Linked DNA regions of Homo sapiens: region 2 is linked to region 1. The links come from fine-mapping of genetic effects on gene expression. A gene starts in region 1. The other region holds a variant in brackets. All regions are shown on one strand. Distances are from middle to middle.

Region 1 (5,390 bases):
ATAATAAAAGTTCAGGGGTGGGAGAATGTTTCTCTGCACTACAGAAAGTTGAGGGGTGTGAGGGTTCCTCCAACAGGGCATAGTGAGAAAAAAAATATTTAAGAAATAAATTGAGAACAGGCTAGCTGAGTAAATAAATCGAAATAAAACAAACTGCAAAAAGACAATTTTTGCTTTCGTTGCATGTCAGGAAGGGTAACAGGAGGAAACAGTGGTTAAACAGAGCCATGAAGCACAAGGACTGGAAACAAGTACAGCCCTAGCTTGGCCTGACCACAGCATGCACTACGAGCTCCACAGTATATAATCCAGGACCCTATTCATTTGGCTTCAACTTCCTCATATAAAGAAGGGGGGAAAATTAAAACATTCTTCTCTATAATTTCCACACAACAGTCATAGTTATATGCCTGTAGTAATAAAAAAACAGTGTAACTGGCATTAACTGTAAATGGGTTGGAAGACATTTTAATGGGGGGATGAAAATGTTCTAAACCTGTACCTCAATAAAGTTGCTTTAAAAAATCTATCTCATTCTTCCTTATGGCAGCTCTTCAGATACTCTCTACTCTCCTCCTGGAAATAAAAAGCCCAAATGCCTCCACAGAATATAATTTTTCAATTTATTATAGTCTAGTATGTTCAACATCTTTTTAAAAATGTGGAATCCAAAACTAAACAGATTATTTCCTGTGTGTTTGATTTGTGCAGAATTAATGGGCTTACAGCTTGGCTGGATTGATATATTTTACTCTGGTAAAATGACATTCTGATAAATACCTGGAAAAACTCTGTGGCGAATTCTCTAGTATAATAATACTCTGGTAGCTTAAGATGTTAAACAGTCATATCACACTGTTTTATTATAGTGAATATGAACTTAAATAAAATCCCTAAACTTTTTTTGCCTCCAACAATCAACTGCCACGGAAATTTACTCCTACTCATATATATAGTATTTTTTAATTTTTTTTTTACTAAAAATTAATATTAATGAAAATTTGAGAAAAGAAAGAAAACAGAAGCCATAGCTGATAATATGGTATATTTATTTCCAGCAAATTTTGATTGCATGATATAGTCATATTGAGAAAAAATAATATCCAATTTCTATGGCCATCCTTCCCAGATCCAAGAAATACTCTAATATTCTGTATGATACCGTCCTAGATCCAATAAATACTCTATTTAATATTCTGTATGATAGAATCTAACACATCACTCTGTTTGTCTCCTCACAATTGTTACCACTGGATTTTTTATTTGGTTACTTCTTCCTTCTTTATTTCACCTTATTAGAATATACAGACCCCAAACATATAGGCTCTGCTGACCTTCACTCCCTTGGGACCTCACTTAGTTCCACAGTTAAAATTAATTCTATCTTCTTGCTGACAATTCCCAAAATTGTATCTCTAGCCCAGACCTCTCTCCTGAATTCTAGACTCGTATGTATAATGCATACAGACACATACACACACAAACTTCCATTACATATTCACTGCATACACATGTCTCTTTATTCCACATGTCCAAAATCAAATTCTGGACCCTATTACCCCAAAAACCTTCCTCAGTCGGAAACTTACCCATCTTAATTGATGGCCAATCCATCCCAAGGCAGTCATTTTGACTCCTCTTTTTCTCTTACAGTCCACACCCATTAATTCCATCAGCACATTTTATTGTTTTTGTCTTAAAAATATATCCAGAATCTGACCAACTTCTCACCATTCCCACTGCTACCATCCTGGTCAAGCCTTCACCAGCTCTCACCTGCAATATTGCAGTAACCTCCAAAGAAGTCTCCCTGCTTCTATCATTGCCTCATCCCCCATTATAATCTATTCTCCTATCTCCGAGTGATCTCTTTAAACATAAGCCAAGTCACTTCAAAACCCTGCAATGGCTTTGTTTCCCTCAAGAGTAAAAACCAAAATTCTTCCTATGGCCCTTTGTTCTCTCTCTGACCTTCTCTCGCTACTTTCTCCTTTGGTTACTTTCACTCAAGTCTCTGTATTTTCTAAATGTTCTTCAATAAGATACTGTTTTTTTAATTAATGAAGTTTTAAATGTAAAACTATGAAAGAGTAATCTAATCTGCCATTTTATCCAAATGTTTCCACTATTAGAACACGATTGTATAACAAGTCTGAGAAGAAAAACTAAGTAAATTTATGACAAGAGTTTATGGTGCCCTGAATGTCTACGTACCTAATGAAGACGTTGATACAGAGAAATCGTCTCAAAAAATCAAACGGTATGGTGAAATACCACAAGTTCTGGGTTTGGGATTGAAATATATTTCTTAAATCTTTTATTACTTACTAATTGTGATACCTTGACTAACTCACTATTCTCTGATTCAGTTTTCTTCTGTGTAAAGATGAAGTGGTCTGTAAAACCAAGAAACCTCGTGTTCTATAACAGGAACACCTTTATATAGCTACCCAAAAAAACACCTAAAAAGGCTGACTTATTCCTAAGAGTGTTATTGAACATTCTAGATTAATCTGCATATACAAAAGAATGCCAGAGAAGAAACCAAAATACCAAAAATATTTGGAGCCTGGTTGCGGACTGAATTTTATACAACTTTCAAAGACACTATTTGAGAGGCTGTCGTGTGTAGCCTACTAAGAAAAAACAGAGGGGTGGGGTGGCTCACTCTCTAGGAACCACAAACTTAAGGTTCCTAGAAAGAGCAGAGATTTTAAATATTCAGACTGTGTATGTATCATGACCCAGGGTTGGGGGCAGATGGCCCGGGGTGGCGGGGGAAAGGAGAGATGGCGGAGATCTTCTATCAGGCTATCCTGGGGAACTGCTCCAGGCTGAAACAAACCACCAGTTAGGACGAACCGCCTTTGATGTGAAAGCTGGGAAGCTAGAATGTAGTTTCGCCTTATCCTTAGCGGGTCGGTTCTAACAATTTTGTCACCCAAACTGAACCACTCACCGGGTCAACTGGGCTGCAAGCCCTTATGAGTTGGAGACAAGTGGCCCAGCCCCAACACAGTCAGACAAATCGCTGGGCGGCCATCTGCTCCTGAGACCGTTGCTAGAGAAACAAGACAACATCCAAGTTCTCCACATCATGGTTTTCCGGGCGCCAGCCAAGGCGCTCCGGGGGCGTGGTTACGTGGGCGACGCACGGAGGGGGCGGGTCAGAAACAACCGGGCGGAGGCGCACCCCAGGGCGCATGCGTGCTGTGCGGCGCGGTCTCAGGGAAGGTGGGGCTATGGCAGCTGCTAGGGACCCTCCGGAAGTATCGCTGCGAGAAGCCACCCAGCGAAAATTGCGGAGGTTTTCCGAGCTAAGAGGTACCAGAGAAGGCACCGGAGTTCTCCTGGGCAATGCAGAGGGAGGGTGCTTTTACGTGCCAGGAGGTTTGCTGGACTGTCACTTCCCGTTTACTTCTCATCTGTAGGCCTATGACGCTCCCCAGGAGTAGCTAGCTAATAATCCTTTTGAGTTTTTTATTCTTTTCACTGTCCCTGCTTGACATGCTTGTTGCTTACTTTATTCTTAGTAGTATAGATATTAAAAATGAGGGCGGAGGAAGAAGAAGAAAATCTTACTAGTGAAGTTATGCATTGATTAGCTCATTAATAAAAGTTGCTTTAAATAAATCTAAAAGATACGAAGCACAGTATTTTGAACTTTATGAGTAGATGCCAGCCCCCTATCTACTTCACGCTTTACATTACGTTCATCTACTTCTGTAATGTAACCGTTTGTTGAGGGAGTAACAGAACATGGAGGAATTATGGATTAAAAATTAAAAGGAAGAAATTTGTTATCAAAAAATTGGCTATGACACTTAATCCCTGTACACCTGTCTAATAAAAGTGATTATATTTGTGTTGCAGTGACTGCTTAAAAAATACTGGGACTAATTCTTGGATAACAGTAAAACTTTCAGGACTATTAGATTCTAGCTGACAAGTTCTGTTTGTTAACTAATTAAAATGCTAAATCATTTTGTTTATCAATAAAGAGATTCCAACTGTCTACTAAAAGTGCACACTGTCTTTTAAAGATGTCATCAGAGAGTTGGGACCTTCTGTTATCCAGAATTTTATGTTATATTCTAACAGCCTATGTAAGTTTGCATGGTTCATCTTAAAGTAATAGAAAATAAAGTACCCACATTTATAAACAGCAACATTGAGGGAAGGGATCTTTGGGTTGTGTCTTTCTTAGTCACCTAACACCAAGTGTCCGTGATACATAAGAATTGATTTGCAAAGCTGGAGATTTGTTTATGTTTATCTCCTCTTCTTATTGAAGAATTGAGGCAATAGTCTTTGGCAAGTTAAAAGTCGCTCTCTTAATCAAGAAACATTATGTCATTCAGAATTTATAATTAAATTGGATTGCAAACCATAAAAGGAGGGAGTGATCTAAAAGAAAAAAAAGGAACTTGTGAACAGTCTTCATTATAACTATTTTGAATCGTATTAATGCACCACTAATTATTCCCTAACTTTCAAAAGCCAAAGATACATTTTGGAAGATGATAATGGATATTACCTTCTTTATCATCTTTCTCAATAGGCAAACCTGTGGCAACTAGAAAATTCTGATAATTTTTGTTTTCATTTCCTTGCTTTTTCCAAATAGGCAAACTTGTAGCACGTGGAGAATTCTGGGACATAGTTGCAATAACAGCGGCTGATGAAAAACAGGAACTTGCTTACAACCAACAGCTGTCAGAAAAGCTGAAAAGAAAGGAGTTACCCCTTGGAGTTCAATATCACGTTTTTGTGGATCCTGCTGGAGCCAAAATTGGTACGCGCTTTATGGTCAGTTTTATAATATAGGTCCTAAGCAGAATAATCATTGAAGAAAAGGTTTCTGTGACTTACAGTGTATAAGCTGCATATCTCTACCCACAGCTTTACAAACTTTAAAATTTGAACATAAATTGACTTTTTTTAGAAAGATAAAAGGAATAGCAACTGTTCTTACCCATTATGACTTACCTTGAAAAACTTCCAGAATGTTACTTAAAAGAAAATTTTATTAGTTTTAATGAAATTCACACTATTCAGATAGGAATACTCCTTTGGACCTTATCAGTAGAACCCTTGAGGTCCTCTCCACTCCAGAGTTCCTCCAGCAATTTACATGAAGAAAGCAATTAGTGGGAAAAAATACTCTTGACCTCTTAGGGACATAATGCAGAATGCAAAAGAACACTGTCACATGGCTTAAATATAATACATATATTTGAAAACCCTAGTTTAGGTCAACTTTGCCCTTTGACCGTCCATTGCAAATAGAAATAAATGCTGTTTTTCTGAATGCTCTTTTCTATGTGATACTTAAAGTTGAAGCCCCCTGATACCAGAGATAAGATATCTGTATATGACATTAATATGAC
Region 2 (5,390 bases), 24 kb after region 1:
TTCTCTGTCATTTGATATTTATGACTTTGCCTAATTTAGCCTCATCAATTTTTAGTCCCCAAAAAAAATCCAAGATGAAATTTAAATTACTTTGGTCCCATCAATTTTGTTTAATTTGTTTACTGTGTAAAACAATAATAGAGATTTTAATGAACATCATCTTAATAAGTTTTCTAGTTCTCTGATGTGATATAATCTAAATTGTGTCCAGACTCTTGATTTATCATATTTTAGATATTAAATTGTTATTTATTTTCCCACTGTCTAAGATTTTTAAAAATCTACAAGTAGCAAGACTTATTGCAAATCATGCCAGATTCAAAAATCCTTCTGTACTACTAGCCCGATTAACCCTTTCTTCCTCTTTCATAGCATGTGGAAGTTTTTTTTTTTTTTTTTTGATACTCATCAAAAGCTACTTTGTAAAATAAGTTAGTTAGATTTTTGAATATCAAATTAGGTTGTAAGCTCTGTAAGCAAGGGCCCTGCCTTATACTTCCTTATAGACAAGCTGTGTCAAACCACTTTTTGGAGTTTTATTTTATTTCTAATTCAAGGACCTAACCTCAGCAGATTCTGATTTAGTTGATCACGAGTAGGTTCTTGTAATTGTAGTTTGTAAAATCTCCCTGAAAGTCTGGTTTGTAAGTTATTGCTAGAACATCAAATCCCTTGTATAAATTACTAATGCTAGCAACTCCAACTAATGCAAAAACCTCTTAAGGATTACATATACAGGAAGATGAGGAAAACAAAGAGACTAATATTTGTGTGAATTTTCCTTGCATAGAATTTCAAAAGCCTGTAGTATTTAGGCTGCAGAATTGCAATGGCCTACTCTAGTTTCACTTTACCTCTTTTCCGACCTTAGCAATATTCCTCTTACTGAAGGAATGTATTCTAAGCAATTCAATTGGTTCAGTCCCTTTCAGTTCAGTTCAATTTTATTCAGTTCAATTCATTCCAAAACAATTAAATTTATGTCTATACTTATAAGGAACTGTGGTGGGCTATTTCAAATGCAAAGATGCCTGCATTCAAGTTACTTATTGCCTGGGAGGAGGGATAAAAGCATTAATTCTATATTCTATAATAAATCCCTTAATAGAAGCAGATGCTGCATGGATAGCAACTTAGAGTAGGATTTAAATGTGTTTAATTTCTTGCCTATTCTTAAACTACATATATGTATTGTATATATGTATATATATTTATGTAATGTATACATTGTATTATATATAGTATATATGCACACATATAAAATTATAGTATAAACTTACCAAATATAAATATGTTTAGTCTTCAAAATGAAATAGTTACTAACAGCCATCTTCAGTAACATTAAAGGATGCAGCCCTGATAGATCATCTCAAGGTGACTTTGTAAATTAGTACATGTCCAGACTCTGTAGAAGAAATGAGTTTTATATAATAAGTCAAAGAGAGAATATATAGTCTTTAGGGGACCCGAACATAACTATTGTAGTTCACTAATAGGTTAACTGTTATATAGCTGCACCGAGCATCATGGGCAATGAGAGTTTCAGAAAGATAATGATGGAGTTAATTTGTGAAAACTCTCATGTGATAATATGCATTTCTCTCTCGTTCTGATATGCTTAAGGCCTACACATTTTCCAAATGCCGTGTTACCCTTTACCATAGGCCCTATCATTTATTCTCTGGCTGTATATATGAACTAGGGAAATATGGGTGATAATTTTAGGTAACTATTTGTGTACTCAGACCTAGACCTCAACCTGGGAAACTCCGGCCAGCAGTTAGGAAATGATAACACATGGTGAGCCAACTTAAACAAATAGACTCAAGACTTGTAATCAAATCCAGTATATTCTATTATGATTTAATAAACCCAGGCATCAGAAACACCACAGTTAGAATTGTCTTTGCATCATTTGCTTTGGACCTCAAGAGGGGGTGACCTTAAATTATAAAGTTACTGGTACGGGAAGAATGAGACCCCCGGACAACACAGAGGTGCTTCTAACACCTTTGCATGTACAATTTCCTTATGTAATTCAGAACATGCCTCTTAGTATTGATGACAATTTCATTTTTAAAGTTTCTAGCTTGAGCTTAAGTCCATTAATTCACAATTTTTCTTCTCCATTAGTGTGAACTTCATGTGACCAAATTATGGGTTTAAGAGACAAAAAAGGGTATGAGATACAACGGGAGCAGCAAGGACAACATGGCCAAAATGTTCTGTGAAGTTGGTAAAGACTCCTCAGAACAGCTGACATTTTGAAGCAGGAATATGACTTTCCTGGAGATAAAGGCAAGAATACTAGAGCAATCACTCTCCATATTACCAGACAAGGAAGTACAATTTAGGCTTACTAGTAGCAAGAACTCCTAAAAATGGCTTTCTGTGAAAACAAGTGGTCTTGAAATTCATAATAATTATAGTCTACTCTTGATAATCCATGTTGAAGAAGGGGAGTACAGTTGTAAGGAAAACATGAAGTTTTTCACAAATTGTAATTAAAATGTAAATCTTTTTGTATATACTTAGATACTAAACTTGAATTCTGGTTGGGAAGGGTATATTATTTGGATGCCAATAAAATGAGATATAAATCTATGAGGACATATGTTGAATTGGAAGCACTCAACTTGGGTTTATTATTAAAAGTCTGCCTGGCATTAAGGATGCACTCAAATATTACTTGCTATAACAAGTCCCTAAATAATTGGCTTCAGAGACAATAGTCTCTGCAAAAAGAAATCAGAAATCTGTGTGACCATACAAACTGCAACTTTCTATTAATTCACCAAATGAAATGTGTTGATCCACTAATGGGGTTATGAATGAAAGCTGA[GT/G]TTTTTTTTTTTTTTTTACCCCAACAGCATTATACTAACTCCTAGCACTCCTTTAAATTTTATGCAAGATGTTAAAGATTATATATGTGGAATTTCAAGTATGAAAAGAGCCAGTCTAGCTCCACAACTAAATATACAATGTATAGAAACAAAATACAATTGAATCAGAGTTAGTTCTTATTGGTGGAGTGCTGAGCTTGCCAATACGATGAAGGAAGATCATGAACCTTTGCGTACACACAAATTGCTAATGCTATTTCTGCCACTGTTATAGAGAATGGTGACAAGGGGGTTAAAAAACATAGTACATGATAACTATAATCACCATTCTGGCATTAAGAAGATATAGGAGAAGATGTAACAAAAATAATGGTAACTACAGACAGAGAGCTTACTGAGACTTTCTCTGCTTGGCGGGAATAAGCAAAGAACTGGTCCTATGGAATCACTCATCATGCTAACTCAAAGATCTTACATAAACCAAGAGGCATGGTGCTTAGATAATGCTCTTCTGTCTCAGGGCCTTCAACTTTTTTTTTTTGAGACAGGGTTTCGCTCTTGTTGCCCAGGCTGGAGTGCAATGGCGCGATCTCGGTTCAGGCATGGCATTTCCCTTAAAGTTGAAGAACTACCAGGACCGATTTTAATTTTAAGTGGCCACAGTGTAGCAGACACAGCAGCTTCCTGCTTTCTCTATCACTGGAGTCTGCTGCAGTAAGCAACAGGGAATTAGTCACTGAGTCAACAAGGGGGAACCACCCAAACTTGTTTATTTAATTTTGCTACATAATAGCTACATATCTATGGATTCTCTAACAACCACATTATATAGTCCCACTTTTCAAATCTTTAAATAATTTGTCCTGCCTATATCAAAATGTATTTCTTTTCACTTTGAGGAACAGCCACAGGTAGATAATTGACAAGTGAAAAGAAAACTCTCAAAAAGAAGAGGAAAGAGTAAAGAGGACTTGGTCATCCATCTTCGATACCAGCTCAGTCACGGTAGAATATGGCACCAGTCAGAGTCATGAGGTGCCCCTTCTAGGCTCTAGCTTCAGGACAACATTTCTAAACATACCCTGGGCCAGAAACGAACCTGCTGCCCTGAAGGGAAGGACCAAGTTTTGGCAGGACCCATCACCTGCTGACTAAACAGCCTTTGGGCCCTGAATAACCAGCAGTGATACTTAGGTTGTATGCTGTGCACTTTGGGTGAGACTCTGAGACTTGCTGGATTCAGATGAGACTCAGCACTTTTCCAGCTGTGGTAGCTACAGGGAGAGACACCTTCTACTTGAGAAAAGCAGAGAGAAAATAAAGGGGACTTTGTCTTGCAGCTTAGGTATCAGCTCAGCCACAGTCAGGAAGAGCACCAAGCTCTTAAGGTCCCTAATTCCAGGCCTTGGCTCTTGGACAGCGTTTTGAGACCTGCCCTGGGCTAGAGGTGAGACCATTGCCCTGAAAGTTGAGTCCCGGGCCAGGTGGCATTCACCACAAGCTGACTTAACAGCCCTTGGGTCTTAAAGGAACATTGGCAGTAGTCTGGCTGTACTCCTCATGGGCCAGTGATGGTGGTAGTCACTGTGTGACGTTCCTCTGCCTATGGAAAGGGGAGGGAAGAGTGGAAAAGACTGTGTCTCATTGTTTGGGTGCCAGCTCAGCCAAAGTGCAATAAAACACCAGGTAGACTTCCAAGGTTTTGACTTTAGTACCTGGCTCCAAGATGGCACCTCTGGACCTGCACAGGACCTGGAGAATCTTGCCATCCTGAAAAGTAGGACACAAACCTGATTGGCTTTCCCCTCCTCCTGCTGATTATAGAGCCCAGAGCCTTGAGTGAACATAGGCGGTAGCCAGGTAGAGGTTATAGTGGATCTTGAGTGAGACCCAGTGTGAAGCCCCAGTGGTGGTGGCCACAGGGATGCTTGTGTCATCCCACTTCCAGTTTCAGTCAGCTCAGGACAGAGAGAAAGATTTTGTTAGTTTGTGAGAAAGTAAGGGAAGAGAACAAGAGTCTCTGCCTAAAAATTCAGAGAATTATTCCAGATCTTATCCAAGACTATCAAGGTAATACCTCCACAAGTCTCCAACAGTTATAGCATTAATAGGCTTGGGGTGCCCCTGAATACAGATGTGGCTTAGACAACAACACCCAAGTACTTTGGAATACCTGGAAAGTCTTCCCAAGAAGAACAAATACGAACAAGCCCAGACAGCAAAGATTACAATAAACACCTTACTCTTCAATGCCCAAAGATGAATATCCACAAACATCAAGGCTTTTCGGGAAAACATGATGTTGCCAAATGAACTAAATAAGACACGAGTGACCAATCCTGCAGAGACAGAGATATTTAATTTTTCAGAGAATTTAAAGTAGCTGTTTTGAGGAAACTCAAAGAAATTCAAGATAACACAGAGAACTCAGAATTCACTCAGAGAAATTTAACAAAGAGATTGAAATAATTTTTTAAAAATCAAGCAGAAATTATGGAGTTTAGAAATGCAATTGGCATATATTGAAGAATGCATGAGAGTCTTAAT

Direction of the effects. Positions count from the first base shown, and alleles are read on the strand shown. Sizes are in standard deviations (SD) of each study's normalised expression.
As copies of GT replace G in region 2, the expression in fetal neocortex of the gene that starts at base 3,206 in region 1 goes up (moderate effect, 0.67 SD a copy in Walker 2019).

The links. PIP is the estimated chance that this variant, and not a neighbour inherited with it, causes the effect.
Region 2: its variant is fine-mapped to the expression of FPGT-TNNI3K in fetal neocortex (Walker 2019, PIP 0.95). The same link has a PIP of 0.9 or more in prefrontal cortex.

The regions. Positions count from the first base shown.
Region 1 is chr1:74,195,037-74,200,426 of GRCh38, forward strand. FPGT-TNNI3K (FPGT-TNNI3K readthrough) reads left to right here and starts at 3,206. Exons shown (of 27, transcript NM_001112808.3): 1 at 3,206-3,324; 2 at 4,628-4,795. The coding sequence starts at 3,243. It overlaps LRRIQ3 (leucine rich repeats and IQ motif containing 3), which reads right to left and starts at 3,140. Exons shown (of 8, transcript NM_001105659.2): 1 at 2,960-3,140. FPGT (fucose-1-phosphate guanylyltransferase) reads left to right here and starts at 3,206. Exons shown (of 4, transcript NM_003838.5): 1 at 3,206-3,324; 2 at 4,628-4,795. The coding sequence starts at 3,243. RefSeq lists a silencer at 3,044-3,143.
Region 2 is chr1:74,219,335-74,224,724 of GRCh38, forward strand. All of the region lies in intron 3 of FPGT-TNNI3K (FPGT-TNNI3K readthrough), which reads left to right. Among named protein-coding and RNA genes, the nearest start is that of TNNI3K, 13 kb to the right of the region's middle. The variant GT/G (reference allele first, on the strand shown) is at 2,843.